Regions from separate parts of the Homo sapiens genome. Here region 2 is linked to region 1. The links come from fine-mapping of genetic effects on plasma protein levels. Region 1 holds a variant in brackets. A gene starts in the other region. All regions are shown on their forward strands. Region 1 has its middle 21 kb from the start of SERPINE2. Region 2 holds the start of GAL (galanin and GMAP prepropeptide).

What was found. PIP is the chance, under the fine-mapping model, that this variant and not a neighbour inherited with it causes the effect. The UK Biobank Pharma Proteomics Project read protein levels with antibody pairs (Olink). The fine-mapping took linkage between variants from a reference panel, not from the people measured, so its PIPs are less certain.
Region 2: it holds the start of GAL, and the variant in region 1 is fine-mapped to the plasma level of the GAL protein (UK Biobank, PIP above 0.99).

Annotation. Positions count from the first base shown.
Region 1 is chr2:224,057,901-224,062,285 of GRCh38, forward strand. No RefSeq gene overlaps it. Among named protein-coding and RNA genes, the nearest start is that of SERPINE2, 21 kb to the left of the region's middle. The variant A/G (reference allele first, on the strand shown) is at 2,504.
Region 2 is chr11:68,680,383-68,684,767 of GRCh38, forward strand. It overlaps GAL (galanin and GMAP prepropeptide), which reads left to right and starts at 4,162. Exons shown (of 6, transcript NM_015973.5): 1 at 4,162-4,350. The region is part of intron 2 of LOC107984343 (a long non-coding RNA gene); the gene reads right to left. RefSeq lists enhancers at 2,881-3,556, 4,233-4,385.

The DNA.
Region 1 (4,385 bases):
TATCTCCCCAGCTTTCAGGCTGAATGGCCACGGTTCTACCATTGCCTCCCCTTTTCCTCACATCTCTTTGTACCACCTCTCCGTACATTCATCTTGATTCAGTATCACAACAATCATGGGAACTGGGCCGAAAAAGCAGAACTGCATTAGAGGGCAGAGCAAAAGGGAGGAAATTAGGCAGCAAAAGCAAAATATTTCAGTGGATGGATGGATGTGGAAGACAAGAACACACTCAAGTTAATAGGCCTTCCCAATCAAATTTGTGTTTTAATTTGCCTGCTTCCTGTAGTGTCCGAGTCTGATTGTAGGGGGCAGGCAAGAACATAGGCCAGAAGGCCACTGGGAAGCTGTGGTAGCAGTTCTCAGAGTTTGGATCAGAATGATGGTGGAGGAATGCCAGCGGCCAAATATCCCAGGGGACAATACTGCTAGGACTTAGGAAGAGCAGGTGAGAGAGAGAATATCCTGACAGCTATGCAGTCTCTTTTCAGAAAAATGCACATCTAAAAATTATTTTACTAGTACAGGTGACTCTTGTTTATAGACTCCTGAAGCCCATTTTCAGCCCATTGATAGCCCTGGCTCCAGAGAAATCATCATAGACCTCTGGAATAACAGCTTCTTTCATTCAAGTTTCTGAGAGCTACTGGGCAGCAGCCAGGTTGAGATTGTGAGGGTTGCCTGGAGTGGTCCAGTGTTGCCCAGAATGAGTGAAGCCATCAGCTTTAACAGCCTGGTGCCTGAATGGAGCAGTGCCACCCACACAGAGATGGTCCATGGGGACAGCCACAAAAAAGGCTTTTATAACAGTATTTTCCAAAAACAAGAGCAGAGAAGAGATGCAGCTTCAAAGTGGGAAAAGCTAGTGGATATTCAGGGGAAACCTGGTATATTTTCATGCTGCTGAAAAAGACACATCTGAGACTGCACTATTTACAAAAGAAAGAGGTTTAATGAACTCACAGTTCCACGTGGCTGGGGAGGTCTCACAATCATGGTGGAAGGTGAAAGGCAAGTCTCACATGCCGGCACGCAAGAGAAGAGAACTTGTGCAGGGAAACTCCCCTTTATAAAACCATCAGATCTCGTGAAACTTACTCACTATCACAAGAATTGCATGGGAAAGACCCGTCCCCATGATTTAATTACCTCCCACTGGGTCCCTCCCACAACACATGGGAATAGTGGGAGCTACAATTCAAGGTGAGATTTGGGTGGGGACACAGCCAAACCATATCACCTGGGGCAGAGGCAAGGGGAGACAGGTCCTCAATAAGCAAACATCCAGTATAGATGCTGAGAAGTGGGAGGGTATGCAACAGGGAGTGAGGCATATTAGTTCCTGTGATCCTTAGCTCTGATAGTGAGAGTCAGATGGGCTTCTGCTGCAGCTCATGCTAGCCTGTCTGCTGATGACCAGTCATGCAGGTGACTACTGTGAACCTGTGTGGCTGCTCATGATAGGCTGCCCCATACTATGTAGAGCCAGCCAATAAAACTGCACACTGCTTTGTTTCCTATGTTATGAGGACATGTTCGAGCTTGGCCTTCAGGCATTTGGAAACTCCCAAACCCACAAACTGGTAGAGAGGGGGAGTAAACTGAGTCATATTGGACTGGGTCACTGGGACTGATAGAATTGGGAGTGACCTTTTCAGGGCCTGCCCAGGGGAGGTAGCCAGCCACCTTAATCACCGAGTGAGATGGGGTTTAATCTGGGCTGGTAACAGTAGCCAAGTGGTCCGGTTTGATGGCTAAGGGTGGTAAGATCTCTGAGTGGTCATGGCAGCCAGCATCAATGGAAAGTACTATTTTGAATCCAGGGAAGGTGCATTTGGAATGAACCAGTATTACTGACAAATGACTGCGGGTTGAGGGCCAGGATTCAGCTCACTGGAGAGAGAAAGGGGTAGGAAGACACTGGGGATATTTTTAGGGTTTTGGTCCAGCAGGAAATGGAGGACCCATCAGGAACCTGGCTGGACATAGTGATTGGGACGTAGTGTTGGTTGTGAGTGGTGCTGTAGCTCATGTAGGAAGTACACAGCAGGCTCAGGGACTCTTTGGTAATTTTTTTTTTTTTAATCTAGGCTCTGGGCCAGTTACTGAGCAGGGCCCTAGGGTTTGGGAGCTGTGGATGTGTTGCCAGGCTTGCCTCTTATTGGCTGACAAACTCTGCCTGAATGGCCCAGCAGGTAACAGGTCTCCAGTCTTTACAATGGGCATGCCTAAGGCAGTCAGGCTCTGATACTGCTTGGCATATAGTTTCCTGCTGAGATGTGAGGCCGGCCCAAGCCCTGGCAGGCTTAACTGGAACCCCCCATACCCTCCTGGGATCCTGGTCTTCCACCTTCCTCCAGATCCCCTAGGCAGCTGCCTACCAGACTGGGCACTCCCTCTCCAGCTCCAACATCGGGTATCATGGCCCTTGAGAATATGGTGATTTCCAGCCTAAGCCTTGGAACCAGATGACCTGGTGTCAATTCTGGCTCTGATACTTCCT[A/G]CAAGTGTAATCCTGAATGCATTTCTTCACCTTATGAACCCTAGTTTCTTCATCTGTAGGTAAGAAAAATAACTCTAAAGCAAAAGTGGGTAAGAGAATTAGATGAGATCATTCATATATAACACTTGGCATAAGGTCCAGCACATATAACTATTTCCGGATATTGTTATGCTTCATAACTGGTTAACTGGGGTAGGAGCTGTCCCTGGCCTTGCTCTGGTTCCTTTTTGTTATGACTTTAGCCTTTTCCCCACCAATCTGGTATGCTGAGAGTCTAACATATCACCAGGTCTAATGTGCTCCGGGGAAATTCTGTGATTGCATTTGTGTGAAAGGACATTCACATGTACACATTTTTAAGGAAGGGTTGGTGATCAACCCCCAAATCAATTCACTGTGATTCTTCCTCTTTTTATTATTTCCACTCTGAATGGAGAAAAAATAGACCCCTGTCACTTCTGGGAACACAGTGAAATTGACACCTCTCTTTTCAGAAAACCTTGTTAAAGGCTCAGTACATAGGACTGGTGGGAGAAGGTTGTTGAATCATACTACTTGGTTCATAGCAGGATTGAGAATAGGTTTACGAACTGCAAGCATATGAGAAGATATTTATAGGAAGGGTTGTGACATGTTATTCTCCACCATTGCCAATAATAGCACAAGAATAAATTAAATAAGTTATAAGAGGAAAGAGCCAGGTTAGATACAAAGAAGAGAGTATAGAAATAGGCCAAAGAGACCCAGACCAGAAGGTACAAAAATTGGGATTGTCCTAGGGATCCTTGAAGGTACATTTAAGGCATAGAATGCAGTGACATTAACACAGGCAAACACCCATTCTGAGTCCATCTAGTCTGTGTAGTTTCATAGGGAAGTAATAATTATCATGGTTTTTTTTTCTGACAGTGACTTTATTTCTTTCTTCTTTGCCTTGCATTGTGTTCACTTTCACTTCACCATAACCTCTATTCTCTTTTTCACCCTGCTTCTGGATGATGAGAGTTAGTGTCCAATTAAGTTGAAAATTAATACGCTCTCTCCTTTTAAATTGTCATTAAAATATTTTATCCACCACCTCCACCCCAGGCACTGTCCATGGAGTGTTTTTTAAGGCTATTTACAAGTCTCCACATAGAGTGGAAGATAGTAGAGGAATGGGAGATGGGGTCTTGACTTCAGGTTTTATTTGGTTTGCCAGTCTTTTGAGCATGGGCTTCTGTGGGAGGTTTCTATTGCTTCATTTTCCTGTGCTCATTTTTCATTCTTCAAGTTGCAGAACCTTGATGTTGCTTTGGGAATTACCTCCTTCTCTCCCACACACTTGATTCCATTGGAAGCAGTCCTGGGGGTACTGCCAATCAAGGTGGCCCAGCCCTCCCTTGGGCAAGATTGAGTAGCTGACGCAAGTTAGGCCAAGTAGATACTCTCCTCCTGCAATTGGAATCTTAAGCAATATGGCGCAAAAAGACGGAAAACAGCTGGAGATTGTTCTTCATGACAATGGCAATTTGAGGTGACTCATTAAATAGTTTCTGACACCTTTGTACCTGAAGCTACTCTGTTCTTAGCCCTTTCCGAAATCTGCGTGTGTGTGTGTGTGTGTGTGTGTGTGTGTGTGTTTCAAGCTTTTCCTTTTATGATTATGAGAGCCTGTATCCTTTCAATAAGTTTTTCTTTTTCTTAATTTAGTTACAGTTGATTTCTGTGTTGGAAGCAAAGCATCCCCAAAGATACTTTGATATGCTGTCCTTCATGAGACTATTAAAGACTGCAAAACAATTCTCTTAGGTCCTTTAAAAAATGATCTTTTCTTGCTTTAAGGCATTAATAAAATGTTGATTATTGGCATCGAGACAGTTGTAACATTTTGCAGGAGCAA
Region 2 (4,385 bases), not on the chromosome of region 1:
GTGTTGTGATTACAGGCATAAGCCACCGCGATGGCCCTCCCACATGCTTTAAATCATCTCTAGATTACTTATAATACTGAGTATAATGTAAATGCTACATGAATAGTTGTTATACCGTATTGTTTAGGAAATAATGACAAGGAAAAAAGTCTGTACGTATTCGTACAGAGAAACCCATCCTAGGCCTACCTACAAGGACCCAGTCCATAGTGGGTTGAACCCACAGCCAGGGAACTCACAGATACAGAGGGGCCAACTGTAATGGGTCTCCGTGAGGGTCTAACTCCGCAAGGGCAGGGACCCTGCTGCTGATTTCACCACTGCAGCTCCACTGCCAGGCAATGGACGGTTGAGCTCCCGTGCAGTGGGCATGGCCCAGGTGACCCTTGACCCTTGCTTGAGTTCTCAGCTTCAGGGTGGTTTTTCCTGGTGGTGGACAGCGCTTCTAAGGAAGATGGGCTGGCTCGAAGGCAGCGGGGGACATCAGGCTTTCTGCTTGATTTCGATTACTCTAATGGTGACCCACTTTGTCTGCTGCACACTGGGCTGTCTTCAAGATGACAGGTTGACAATGACTGCCATTGGGTCATTACTGAGCAAAGAGCCATTAGCACACTGGCTGTGGTTCCAGCACAGTCTGTGCCGGGAGGCAGGTGTCTGTCATCCCAGGTGTGCTGGCCTCATTTGTCTGAAGGAATCTGCCGACCTCAGGAAACCCCAGCACGCCTTCAGGCCACTGCCTTGCTTGTCTGTAGCCTTCCCATGGTCACCGCACTTCCGGGCCAGGGTCCCAGCCAGGGTTTATACCGAGACCCACTCACCCAGACTAAGCGGGAAGCAAGACGGTGGGTGTCATCCCACGTGGAAAAAGAACTTAGGGACCTGGAGGAATCAGGCATGGGCATGTTTATTTTGAATACATGTGTCTAATTATTCAATGGAGCTTTCTTAAATGAATTCAAAATACATGTGAAGATTTGTTTCCAGTTGCTTAATGTCTTTTTAATAAGGAGGCTCTGACCAGATAACCTACCCTGAAATTTCTTTTTCGTTTGTTTTTTGTTTTTTGTTTTTCGAGACGGAGTCTCGCTCTGTCACCCAGGCTGGAGTGCAGTGGCACGATCTAGGCTCACTGCAAGCTCCGCCTCCTGGGTTCACGCCATTCTCCTGCCTCAGCCTCCCAAATAGCTGGGACCACAGGCGCCTGCCACCACTCCCGGCTAATTTTTTGTATTTTTGGTAGAGACGGGGTTTCACCATGTTAGCCAGGATGGTCTCGATCTCCTGACCTTGTGATCCACCCGCCTTGGCCTCCCAAAGTGCTGGGATTACAGGCATGAGCCACCGCACCCGGCCTGAAATTTATTTTTCTTTTTTTCCTTTCTCTTTCCTCACTTTCCTTCCTTCTCTTTTCTTCTTCTCCTTCTCCTCCTCGTCCTCCTCCTTCTTCTTCTTCTTTCTTCTTCTTCCCTTCTCTCTCTCTCTCTCTCTCTCTCCCTCCCTCCCTCCTTCTTTCTTTCTTGACAGAGACTTGCTCTGTTGCCTATGCTGGAGTGCAGGCTTGATCGTGGCTCACTGTAGCCTCAACCTCCTGGGCTCAGGTGATCCTCCCACCTCAGCCTCCTGAGCTGAGTAGCTGGGACTACAGGCACGTGCCATCATGCTTGGCTGATTTTTAAAAAATATTTATTTATTTATTTTTAGTAGAGATGAGGCCTTGCTATGTTGCCCCAGCTGGTCTTGGACTCCAGGGCTCAAGTGATCTATCTACTCACCTCAGCCTCCCAAAATGCTGGGATTACAAGCGTGAGCCACTGCGCCCAGTCTGAAGTTTCTTTGAAAGCAAAAAAGGAAACAAAAAGAGTACATAGGCCCAAATGAAGACAGCTGAAAGTTTAATGTACCTCAAATTCCAGCCCATGACTAAGGGATGGACTTTGAGTCTCTTTTCGAATCCATCTCAAGGATTTAGGTTTAGAGTTTGTGCTCCTTTAAACAGACTAAGAGCCTCTGTGACAAAGTAAATAGAGAAAATAAGTGTAGTCAAGCTCTGGCAGGATTTGGAAGGGGGCCTAACGTGGAAGAAAGGAGAAGGCTGGAATTGACTAAGATGTGCTATGCACTGGGCTGGATTTGTTCTCAGCAGAAAGCAAGAAAGAGCTCTGGGATGGTAGCAGGGCTCCCACTACCACCGGGGGCCAAAGGTTGCAGTATTTCTCAGGTAGCCAAGAGGCACCCATGAGCCCAGCCCCTGCCCACTCCCTGATGTCATCTAGACACAAGGACATGGGGCATGAGAGGACATCATTGTCACTTCTCTGCAGAGTCACAGGAACGTGCCCTCTGCTCCTCCGCCTCTCGGCTGTCCTTCTGCCCACGGCTGGCCCAGACTCTCATGGCGACTCACTGTCTCCCACGCCCCCACTCCCGGCAGGAAACCACTTCAGGGTTTACTGTGGGCTCCGAAATCAGCCTGTGAGTCCTAGTTAGGGTCCCCTGTGCCTGACTCTCCTCTCCCCAGGCTGCAAGAAATAGGGATGACCAGAAGTCAAACTGTGCCCTTGGGAACACCCCACCCCTCACCACTGTCGTGCCAGGAGTCTGTTCCTAAGACCCCTCCCCAAGTCCTGTCTCCTCCTCTTCCTCCCATAAACCACAGCAGACACTCAGCCACCAGGCTGCAGCCCTGCACCTTCTCCAGCAGCCGCTGGCCTTCGCCAGAGTTCTTGAAAGCCCAGTTGTCCTTCCCCAGCCACGTGGAGGCAGACGGATCTCTCCTGGGGGCAGCCTGTAGCTGTCTGTGCAAAGGTTCCCAAGACTAAAGTGTAGAGGACAGGTAAGATGACACTGTCATGATCATCATTCGTCCTGTGCCCTGTGGACATCAACCCACAGATGTGACATCAACCCATCTGATATTGAGCCCAGTGGGTGGGGAGATCCTAACCCAGCTGCTGCTGTTGAGGACTTGGGTGGTGTCTGGCCAGTGGGAGGGGAGGTCAGGCGAGTTTTCAGCAGATGACCCCGTGCTCTTCGGAAGCCCGGAGGTGCCACACTGTACAAGTGTGATGCCTGGGATCCTGTGCTCCCCTGATGCCTGGGAATGGGGTGAAGGAACAGCCTAGGCTTGGGTTCTCTCCTGGGTTGTTTCGGGACTTGGCCCCAGCTCAGGAAGGGTTTGTGGAGGAGCCAAGGAGGGCCTTGTTCCTGTGGGATGTCTTTGCCTTGGGCACAAGGACAGCCTCTTGCTGCTGCTCTGCCCACCGCCCACCCCTTGGCGGCCTCTGGGAGTCTGGGCTGCTCTCCCTCTGGACCTAACCAGTTGCCCAATGGCTGGACCTGCTTAAAGCTCCCTCTTACAACTGGACCAGGCAGCCAGGGGAGGCACTGAGAGGCCGAGCTTCTGAGCTGGTGCCTGTGGATGCTCGACGGTCCCGCAGCTCCCACAATGGGATGGCCAAGCAGACCCTGAGATCCACAGCCCCCCTTTAGTGAAACAGGAGGGAGGTCGCTGGGCACAGGGAGCCGGGAACGCCTGCCCTCCCCGCCATCGACGGCTCCCGAGGCCTGAACCTTCGCTCCAGCCCCAGCACAAGCCGGCCAGGGCGCAGGGCCAAGTGTTGCCCGCCATTCCCCGGGTACCCCATGACCTCCCAGCTGGGGCTGGCTCGGACTGAGGAGTCGTCCCTGCCCGTCACCCTCTGGGGTCTCCAGTGCTGCGGAGCTCAGCTGGCTTTTGCAGCGGTAGGGGCTGGGAGGAGAAGCTGCAGGGAGACCGCAGGCGTGGGACGTTGTGGGGGGTCAGGCTTGCTCTGGGGCTGGGACCCCGGGGGGAGCAGTGGGGTTGACGCCACAGCGATGACTTGGGCCACGGGTCTGGGGGCTCTCCCGCGGGGCGATTGGGCTCTGTCTTTCGGGATTAGGGTCTCTCCCACAGGGTTTGGGGTTCTCTCTGCAGATTTGGGGGAGTCTCTCCCGCGGGATGAGGGGGGGCTCTCCGCCGCACCCGCCTATGATGGCCCAGAGGACCCGAGCTCGGGTCACTCCCGTCGCCCTCGGGGCTCGGCGAGGGTGCAGGAGGCGGGCGCTGAGCCGGTGACGCGACTCCGGGCGGCTCCCGGGTGCGCCGCATATATAGCAGCGGCGGCGGTGGCGGCGGCCACACCGGGCGGCGGACACGTGGAGGGACCCGGCCCGCGCCTTCTGCCCCTGCTGCCGGCCGCGCCATGCGGTGAGCGCCCCAGGCCGCCAGAGCCCACCCGACCCGGCCCGACGCCCGGACCTGCCGCCCAGACCCGCCACCGCACCCGGACCCCGACGCTCCGAACCCGGGCGCAGCCGCAGCTCAAGGTACTACTGGCGCCGGGCCGACCCTGCGCCCCCGG